3 separate regions of the Homo sapiens genome follow, and regions 1 and 3 are each linked to region 2. The links come from fine-mapping of genetic effects on gene expression. A gene starts in region 2. Each other region holds a variant in brackets. All regions are shown on one strand. Distances are from middle to middle. Region 1 has its middle 69 kb from the start of LHFPL4. Region 2 holds the start of SETD5 (SET domain containing 5). Region 3 overlaps SETD5 (SET domain containing 5).

The links. PIP is the estimated chance that this variant, and not a neighbour inherited with it, causes the effect.
Region 1: its variant is the best candidate, but not a certain one, in a credible set for the expression of SETD5 in whole blood (INTERVAL, PIP 0.62).
Region 3: its variant is the best candidate, but not a certain one, in a credible set for the expression of SETD5 in whole blood (TOPMed, PIP 0.62).

What each region holds. Positions count from the first base shown.
Region 1 is chr3:9,483,487-9,486,250 of GRCh38, reverse strand. No RefSeq gene overlaps it. Among named protein-coding and RNA genes, the nearest start is that of LHFPL4, 69 kb to the left of the region's middle. The variant C/T (reference allele first, on the strand shown) is at 1,305.
Region 2 is chr3:9,396,076-9,398,839 of GRCh38, reverse strand. It overlaps SETD5 (SET domain containing 5), which reads right to left and starts at 1,225. Exons shown (of 23, transcript NM_001080517.3): 1 at 863-1,225. It overlaps THUMPD3-AS1 (THUMPD3 antisense RNA 1), which reads left to right and starts at 2,217. Exons shown (of 4, transcript NR_132781.1): 1 at 2,217-2,280. RefSeq lists an enhancer at 358-407 and a silencer at 1,018-2,327.
Region 3 is chr3:9,448,733-9,451,496 of GRCh38, reverse strand. The region is part of intron 16 of SETD5 (SET domain containing 5); the gene reads right to left. Among named protein-coding and RNA genes, the nearest start is that of SETD5, 52 kb to the right of the region's middle. The variant C/T (reference allele first, on the strand shown) is at 1,550.

The DNA.
Region 1 (2,764 bases), 87 kb before region 2:
CATTTAGCCACTCTGTCTTCTGATTGGAGAATTCAGTCCATTTACATTCAAGGGAATTATTGACAGGCAAGGACTTACTATTGTCATTTTGTTCAGTGTTTTCTGTTTTTGTAAATTTTTTGTTCCCTTCTTCCCCTTTTGCTGTCTTCCTTTGTGAAGTGATGAATTTTTACAGTGGAATGGTTTGATTCCTTACCCGTTATCTTTTGTGTATCTAGTATAGACTTTTGCCCTGTGGTTACCATGAGGCTTACATAAAACATCTTAAAACAGTCATCTATTTTAAGCTAATCACTTCCATACAAAAACTGTATACTTTTACTTTCTCCCATTTATATCTTTAAAGTAATGACTTACATATTTTTATACTGTATATCCATTAACAGATTATTGTAGTATAGTTAAATATTTGTCTTTTAACCTTCATACTAGAGTTTATATTAAGTGATTTATACACCATTATAGTATAGGATAGCTCATTTCTTTTTAACACTGAATAATATTCCATTGGATGTATCACCATTTACTTATCCATTCACCTACTGAAGGACATCTTGGTTGCTTCCAAGTTTTTGCAATTATGAATAAAGCTGTGATAAATGTTCACATGCTGGTTTTTATGTGGACCTGTTTTCAATTCTGGGGAAATACGCAAGAGTGCAACAGCCAAATTGTATGTTTACTTTTTAAAGAAACTGCTGAAGTGTATTCCAAAGTGACTGTACCATCTTGCATTCCCACCAACAATGAATGAAGAGTACCTGTTACACATCCTTGTCAGCATTTGGTTTCATTAAGTGTTTTAGATTTACCATTCTAGTAGGTGTATGATGGTATCTCATTGTAGCACTAATCTGCAATTACTGGATGATTTATGATGTTGGGAGTCTTTTCATACAATTACTTGTCATTTGTATATGAGGTGTCTGTTTAGATCTTTTGCCCATTTTTAAATTGGGTTTTTATTTTTCTTTTGTTGAGTTTTCAGAGTTCTTTGTATTGAATAGTCCTTTATCAGGTATGTTTTTTACAAATCTTTTCTCCTACTCTGTGGCTTATCTTCTCAATCTCTTGACAGTGTCTTTTGCAGAGCGATGTTTTAACTTTAATGAAGTCCAGCTTACCAATTGCTTTTTTCATGGATCATCCTTTTGGTGTTGTACCTAAAAAGTCAGTCAATTCCAAGGTTATCTGGATTTTCTCCAATGTTCATTATTTTAGGAATTTAATAGTTTTACATTTAGGTCTGTGTTCCATTTTAATTTTTATGAAGGATGTAAGATGTGTATAGATTCATATATATA[C/T]ACACACACACACACACACACACACACACACACACACATATATATATATAGCACGTGGATGTCTGGTTGTTCCTGCACCATCCATTACGGACTCTATCGTTTTGCTTTTGCTTCTTTGCCAAAGATCAGATGATTCTATTTGTGTGGGTCTACTTCTGGACTCTTTATTGTGTTCCAGTAATCTATTTGCCTAATCTTTTGCTGATATCACACTGTCTTGATTACTGCAGCTTTATGATGTGTTGAGGTAGTGTTAGTTTAAAACTTTAGAATTAGCCGGACACAGTGGCTCATGTCTGTAATCCCAGCAATTTGGGAGGCTGAGGCAGGCAGATCACTTGAGGTCAGGAGTTCGAGACCAGCCTGGCCAATGTGGTGAGACCATCTCTACTAAAACTACAAAAATTAGCCGGGCATAGGGGTGCACACCTGTAATCCCAGCTACTCAGAAGGCTGAGGCAGGAGAATCACTTCAACCTGGGAGGTAGGGATTGCAATGAGCTAAGATCATGCCACTGCACTCCAGCCTACATAACAGCACAAGACCCTGCCTTAAAAAACAAAACAAAACAGACAAACCCCCTTTAGAATCAGCTTGTTGATATCTACAAAATAACTAGCTGGTATTTGGGTTGGGATTGCATTGAATTTATAGATCATGTTTAGAAGAACTGATATCTTCACAATACTAGTCTTCCTATTCATGAACACCTCTATTTATTTAGATCTTTGATTTTTTTCATTAGTTTTATAGTTTTCGTCATGCAGGTCTTATACGTATCTTGTTGGAATTACACCTAAGTATTTCATTTTAGGGTACTAATTTATTTTAATTTTATTTATTTATTTATTTATTTATTTATTTATGCATTTATTTATTTATTTTTGAGACGGAGTCTCGCTCTGTTGCCCAGGCTGGAGTGTAGTGGCGTGATCTCAGCTCACTGCAATCTCTGTCTGCTGGGTTCAAGTGATTCTCCTGCTTCGGCCTCCTGAGTAGTTGGGATTACAGGCGTCCTCCACCACGCCCGGCTAATTTTTGTATTTTTAGTAGAGACGGAGTTTCACCATGTTGGCCAGGCTGGTCTCGAACTCCTGACCTCAGGTGCTCTGCCTGCCTCAGCCTCTTGAAGTGCTGGGATTATAGGCGTGAGCCACTGCGCCTGGCCTTTGGGCACTAATTTAAATGGTCTTGTGTTTATTTTTTAGTATCAGAGTGTTGCTCTGTCATCCAGGCTGGAGTGCAGTGGTACGATCATGGCTTACTGCAGCCTTGAACTCCTGGGCTCAAGTGATCCTCCCACCTCAGCCTTCCAAGTAGCTGGGACTACAGGTGTGCACTACCATGCCTGGCTTTGTTTTAAATTTCAAATTCCATTTTTCATTGCTAATATACAGAAATGTGATTAACTTCTGCACAACAATCTTGTATCCTATAGTCTTGCTATAATTGCTTAATT
Region 2 (2,764 bases):
AATCAATTAGCATAGAAGGGGCTTTCCCAACAGTTTAACTTTCCCTCTCATGCGATTTACCTACTTGAACCAGGGCTCTTTCCTACACTCCTCTTCACATTCCCGACTTACACGCAGAGGGAAAGAGAATTCATAAAGGGAATATTTTTCTGCCTTTGAAGATATTCTCACAAGATCGTTCTCCACGCCCAAGGCAAGTAAAACGACACAATCTGGCTCAACTCCAGGCTCGAACCCTACACATTCAACGAGGCTATCTCAGACACGCTGTGGCACACGCCACGGGGAGCCAGAGAACGTGTGGTGGGGGTGGCGAAGGTAATGCCTTTGGGAAGCAGCCATCTGAGGTGGGAAGCCAGAAAACGAGAGGGAAGGCGTCCAGGAAGATTACGGAGGGGAGATCGCGGCCCCCAGAGCGATCAGAGTTGTCTGTCACAAGGCCGCGAGAACGGGGGTAGGGAGTGGGGGATCGGGGAGAGAAAAAAAGTATGCCTGTGTATTTCGAGCGGAGGGCAGCAAGAGGCCTCTCCTCAAGGGAAAGGTAAACGTGGAGTAGGCAGTTCCCAGGAAAGGGGGTGAAGAGGCGTTGGGGGAGGGGAAGCGTCCTGACCCAGGAAAAACATGAAAGGGGGAGTTGGGTCGCCTAGATTAGAGGGGGATCTCTCTCCCTGGGAAAATGGGGTGTTGCAACGGTGTGTGCAAGGCGGCGAGGGGGGTGAGAAGTGGCAGCATCCTCCTAAGAGCTTGGGGAGGGCCAGGCCCACGACCCAAGGAGAGCGAGCGCGGGGAGACGGAGGAGGTGACCCTTCCCTCCCCTGGGGCCCGATCGTGAGGTTCGGTCTCTTTTCTGTCGGACCCTTACCTTGTCCCAGGCGCTGCCGGGGCCTGGGCCCGGGCTGCGGCGCACGGCACTCCCGGGAGGCGGCAGGACTCGAGTTAGGCCCAACGCGGCGCCACGGCGTTTCCTGGCCGGGAATGGCCCGTACCCGTGAGGTGGGGGTGGGGGGCAGAAAGGCGGAGCGAGCCAAAGGCGGGGAGGGGGGGCAGGGCCAGGGAAAGAGGGGGGCCGGCACTACTGTGTTGGCGGACTGGCGGGACTGGGGCTGCGTGAGTCTCTGAGCGCAGGCGGGCGGCGGCCGCCCCTCCCCCGGCAGCGGCGGCGGCGGCGGCGGCGGCGGCGGCGGCGGCAGCTCACTCAGCCCGCTGCCCGAGCGGAAACGCCACTGACCGCACGGGGATTCCCAGCGCCGGCGCCAGGGGCACCCGGGACACGCCCCCTCCCGCCGCGCCATTGGCCTCTCCGCCCACCGCCCCGCACCCATTGGCCCACTCGCCGCCAATCAGCGGAAGCCGCCGGGGCCGCCTAGAGAAGAGGCTGTGCTTCGGCGCTCCGGCTCCTCAGAGAGCCTCGGCTAGGTAGGGGAGCGGAACTCTGGTGGGAGGGGAGGTGCGGTACACTGGGGGGATGGGTGGCTAGGGGGGCCGTCTGGTGGCTTGCGGGGGTTGCCTTTCCCGTGGGAAGTCGGGAACATAATGTTTGTTACGTTGGGAGGGAAAGGGGTGGCTGGATGCAGGCGGGAGGGAGGCCCGCCCTGCGGCAACCGGAGGGGGAGGGAGAAGGGAGCGGAAAATGCTCGAAACCGGACGGAGCCATTGCTCTCGCAGAGGGAGGAGCGCTTCCGGCTAGCCTCTTGTCGCCGATTGGCCGTTTCTCCTCCCGCCGTGTGTGAAAACACAAATGGCGTATTCTGGTTGGAGTAAAGCTCCTGTCAGTTACGCCGTCGGGAGTACGCAGCCGCTTAGCGACTCTCGCGTTGCCCCCTGGGTGGGGCGGGTAGGTAGGTGGGGTGTAGAGATGCTGGGTGTGCGGGCGCGGCCGGCCTCCTGCGGCGGGAGGGGAGGGTCAGTGAAATCGGCTCTGGCGCGGGCGTCCTCCCACCCTCCCCTTCCTTCGGGGGAGTCGGTTTACCCGCCGCCTGCTTGTCTTCGACACCTGATTGGCTGTCGAAGCTGTGGGACCGGGCCCTTGCTACTGGCTCGAGTCTCACATGAGCGAAACCACTGCGCGGGGCGCGGGGGTGGCGGGGAGGCGGGCGTTGGTACGGTCCTCCCCGAGGCCGAGCGCCGCAGTGTCTGGCCCCGCGCCCCTGCGCAACGTGGCAGGAAGCGCGCGCTGGAGGCGGGGGCGGGCTGCCGGCCGAGACTTCTGGATGGCGGCGGCCGCGGCTCCGCCCCGGGTTCCCACCGCCTGAAGGGCGAGACAAGCCCGACCTGCTACAGGCACTCGTGGGGGTGGGGGAGGAGCGGGGGTCGGTCCGGCTGGTTTGTGGGTGGGAGGCGCTTGTTCTCCAAAAACCGGCGCGAGCTGCAATCCTGAGGGAGCTGCGGTGGAGGAGGTGGAGAGAAGGCCGCACCCTTCTGGGCAGGGGGAGGGGAGTGCCGCAATACCTTTATGGGAGTTCTCTGCTGCCTCCCGTCTTGTAAGGACCGCCCTGGGCCTGGAAGAAGCCCTCCCTCCTTTCCTCCTCGCGTGATCTCGTCATCGCCTCCATGTCGAGTCGCTTCTCGATTATGGGCGGGATTCTTTTGCCTAGGCTTAAGGGGCTAACTTGGTCCCTGGGCGTTGCCCTGCAGGGGAGTGAGCAGCTGTAAGATTTGAGGGGCGACTCCGATTAGTTTATCTTCCCACGGACTAGAGTTGGTGTCGAGGTTATTGTAATAAGGGTGGGGTAGGGAAATGGAGCTTAGTCATTCACCTGGGGCT
Region 3 (2,764 bases), 53 kb before region 2:
CCAGCCTGGACAACAGTGAGACCCTGTGAACCCCTACTATCCCCCACCAGAAGAAATCTGGCTGTGTCACTTATTAGCTGCTTCACTTTGGACAAGTTACCAAACATTTCTGAGACAAAGCTTCTGGATATATAAATTTAGGACAATGATCCCAATTTCATGCATGGTAAGTGAGATAATGTATGTGAAGAAAGCTTATAGTACAGTACTGAACACTGAGCAGATTTTCACCGAGTCCCGGTTCAACTAAATTTCAATGCTATGTTTGGAGATTTACAGATAATGCTCCAGTGTATAAAATGAAATATTAATTATCAATGCAAAGCACACTGTTTCATTATCAGTCAGACTGGTTTTTCTAAGAAGTCTGGAGACCAAATGCCCTATACACATTGTGTTTAGAAGAGGAGTTTAGAGAGAACAAGGTGAAACACTACTGAGAGCCTTGTTGGCCACTTATAAATGTTTTTAAAATACCAACTGAGGAACTAAAAAATGCAAAATGCTTCTTAAAAACTATGATTCAATTTAGAAACTCTAGGGATATCATAAAATGTTCTGTCAAATACCTGAACTCCTCTTCTTTTCAGAAGTTGCAGAATAATAATGATAAAAATAAAAATAAATAGCATAAGAATCTGAGTACAACTATACAGATACAACTTTAATTTGTCCTATACTGGTAAGTTTTTAACTTACAAGGCCAGGCCCTTACCTCTTTAGTGAGATATGAAACAGTGAGCCTATTAGAAATATACATTGTTCTAAATAATCCCATGGAGGGTTTTCTTATCTATCTGATTAACTTATACTCTGAGGGATTTTCAGAATTTTATTACAATTTTGTTGAATAATGAAAATGTTCTTAGGTTCTGCATTAGGTAAGTCCTTTCTAACCAATATTAGGAGATATTAGAAGAAGACCAATATTAGAAGAAGAACTCTTCTTCACTGCTATAAAGCCAAATTCTATTCTAGCTAAAACATTCCATTTCATTTTATTTTGCCTCATAAAAAGCTGTATTTTAAAAAATAGAATCTTGATATGTGAACAGCACACAATAAAGCAATGACTTAAACAGTTTTTAAAGATCCTATTTAAATAGTCTTGTTATGATAATCCTGTGTATGCAGCCTAAACTCTTCCTAAAGACTAACCATGACACATAGATAAAAGTGCTTGAGTAGAGCCTGTATAAATGAGATTAAGGATAGTCAGATACACTTGGAGAATATAACAGGGACTTGTGTTAAATGGAATTTCTATCTGTTGCCCGTAGAAATTTAAGGATGTGCTATAGATACAAGTATAAAAGCAGAACCAAGTTAAAAAAGCTTAAAGAAATGCATTTTCTACCAGATCTGAAGTTACAGTCCTAGACACGTTTTTGGTTTTCGTTAAGTCTCTGCTAGTTGGAAAAGATGGAAACAGAAAGACTGCAACCCAGCATTAGAATTATCAAGAAGGAATTTCAATTCAAGAGCCTAGTTCATATTATTTGCAGCTCAGACTTCATTACTTATCTGTAATAAATAATTGCCTACACTC[C/T]TTAAAGGACCAAAATAGGAGATTGTACGACCTGGCTTGATAAGATGCTTCAACAGTTAACATCCTTAGAAATGGTCAAATTTCTCTTTAGGAATTCTACGAGCGTTTCCCCGAACAAACCAATGAGTGATTCCAATGTTTAGGTAAGATGTGCAATTAGGAAAAGACTTTCTGCAATGTGCTGCTCATTCAGCAGTAGTGTCCTTCCTTTTTGCAGATTCCTATTGCCCTCCTCCCCTCCATATCCCACACCACTTTGGCTCATCTTTCATGCCCCCCTCCCCCGGAGAAATAACTTCTGTTCTTTGGGGAAAGAGAAAAGCTTTTAAGTTTGGAGGAGTCAGGGAAGACCTGCCTGGAGTTGGAGACTTCATCACATCAAATAATCTACATGCAGCATCCTCATGTACGTGATGCCAGTGGAGGAGGGCAATGGCAGACACTGAGGAAGGCAGCCTGAATCCAGATCTGAGGATAAGAGAAAAGGGTGTTCCAGGGAACAGACTCTACCTCAAAGGAAGACCAAATGAAAGGGTGTCCTATACTTCTAGAAACATGGAAAACGACATCATAGATCTGAGGGAGTGATCTATTCCTAAGAGACACCTTTGGAAAATATGCAGGGCTTCTGGGAATTAAGAAAGAGCATTCCAAAAACACCACCAAACGCTACTGCCACTAGATCCAAAAACAGTAAGTAACTGGAAAGAGGAGAAAGAGGCAGAAACAGAGAGGGAAAGAGAGTCTTTTAGGGTAGATTCTGTATTCTCTTGGAATAAACAGTCCGACTTGTCATTTGATCAAGGAACAGGAATTATGCCAATTACAATAGGATTTTTCCTCTAATTTCCTTCAAGTGATGATAGTGGATAATAACGGTTGAATTGATTCAAAACAATTTAATTTTTTTCATTTATGCAACAGTGTTCTAGAGGACCCAGGGCCTAATCTCACACAATAATCATAAATGGACATGTTAACCCATATCACAAGAGCACACACAAAACATATCCGTCTCTACCCAGTCATCCACTGCTGTGTGCTCTCACTCAGGAACCTCAAGGGTTCTCAGAAGAGACATCAGTGACCAGTCACAAATCTGAGCACTAAAAATGCAGTACATTCATTCCACCACAGTCTCACAGACTCTTGATGAATCAGTATTTATGGCTGAACAACTAACTCATTATAAACTCACATGGGCAGAGTGGCTAT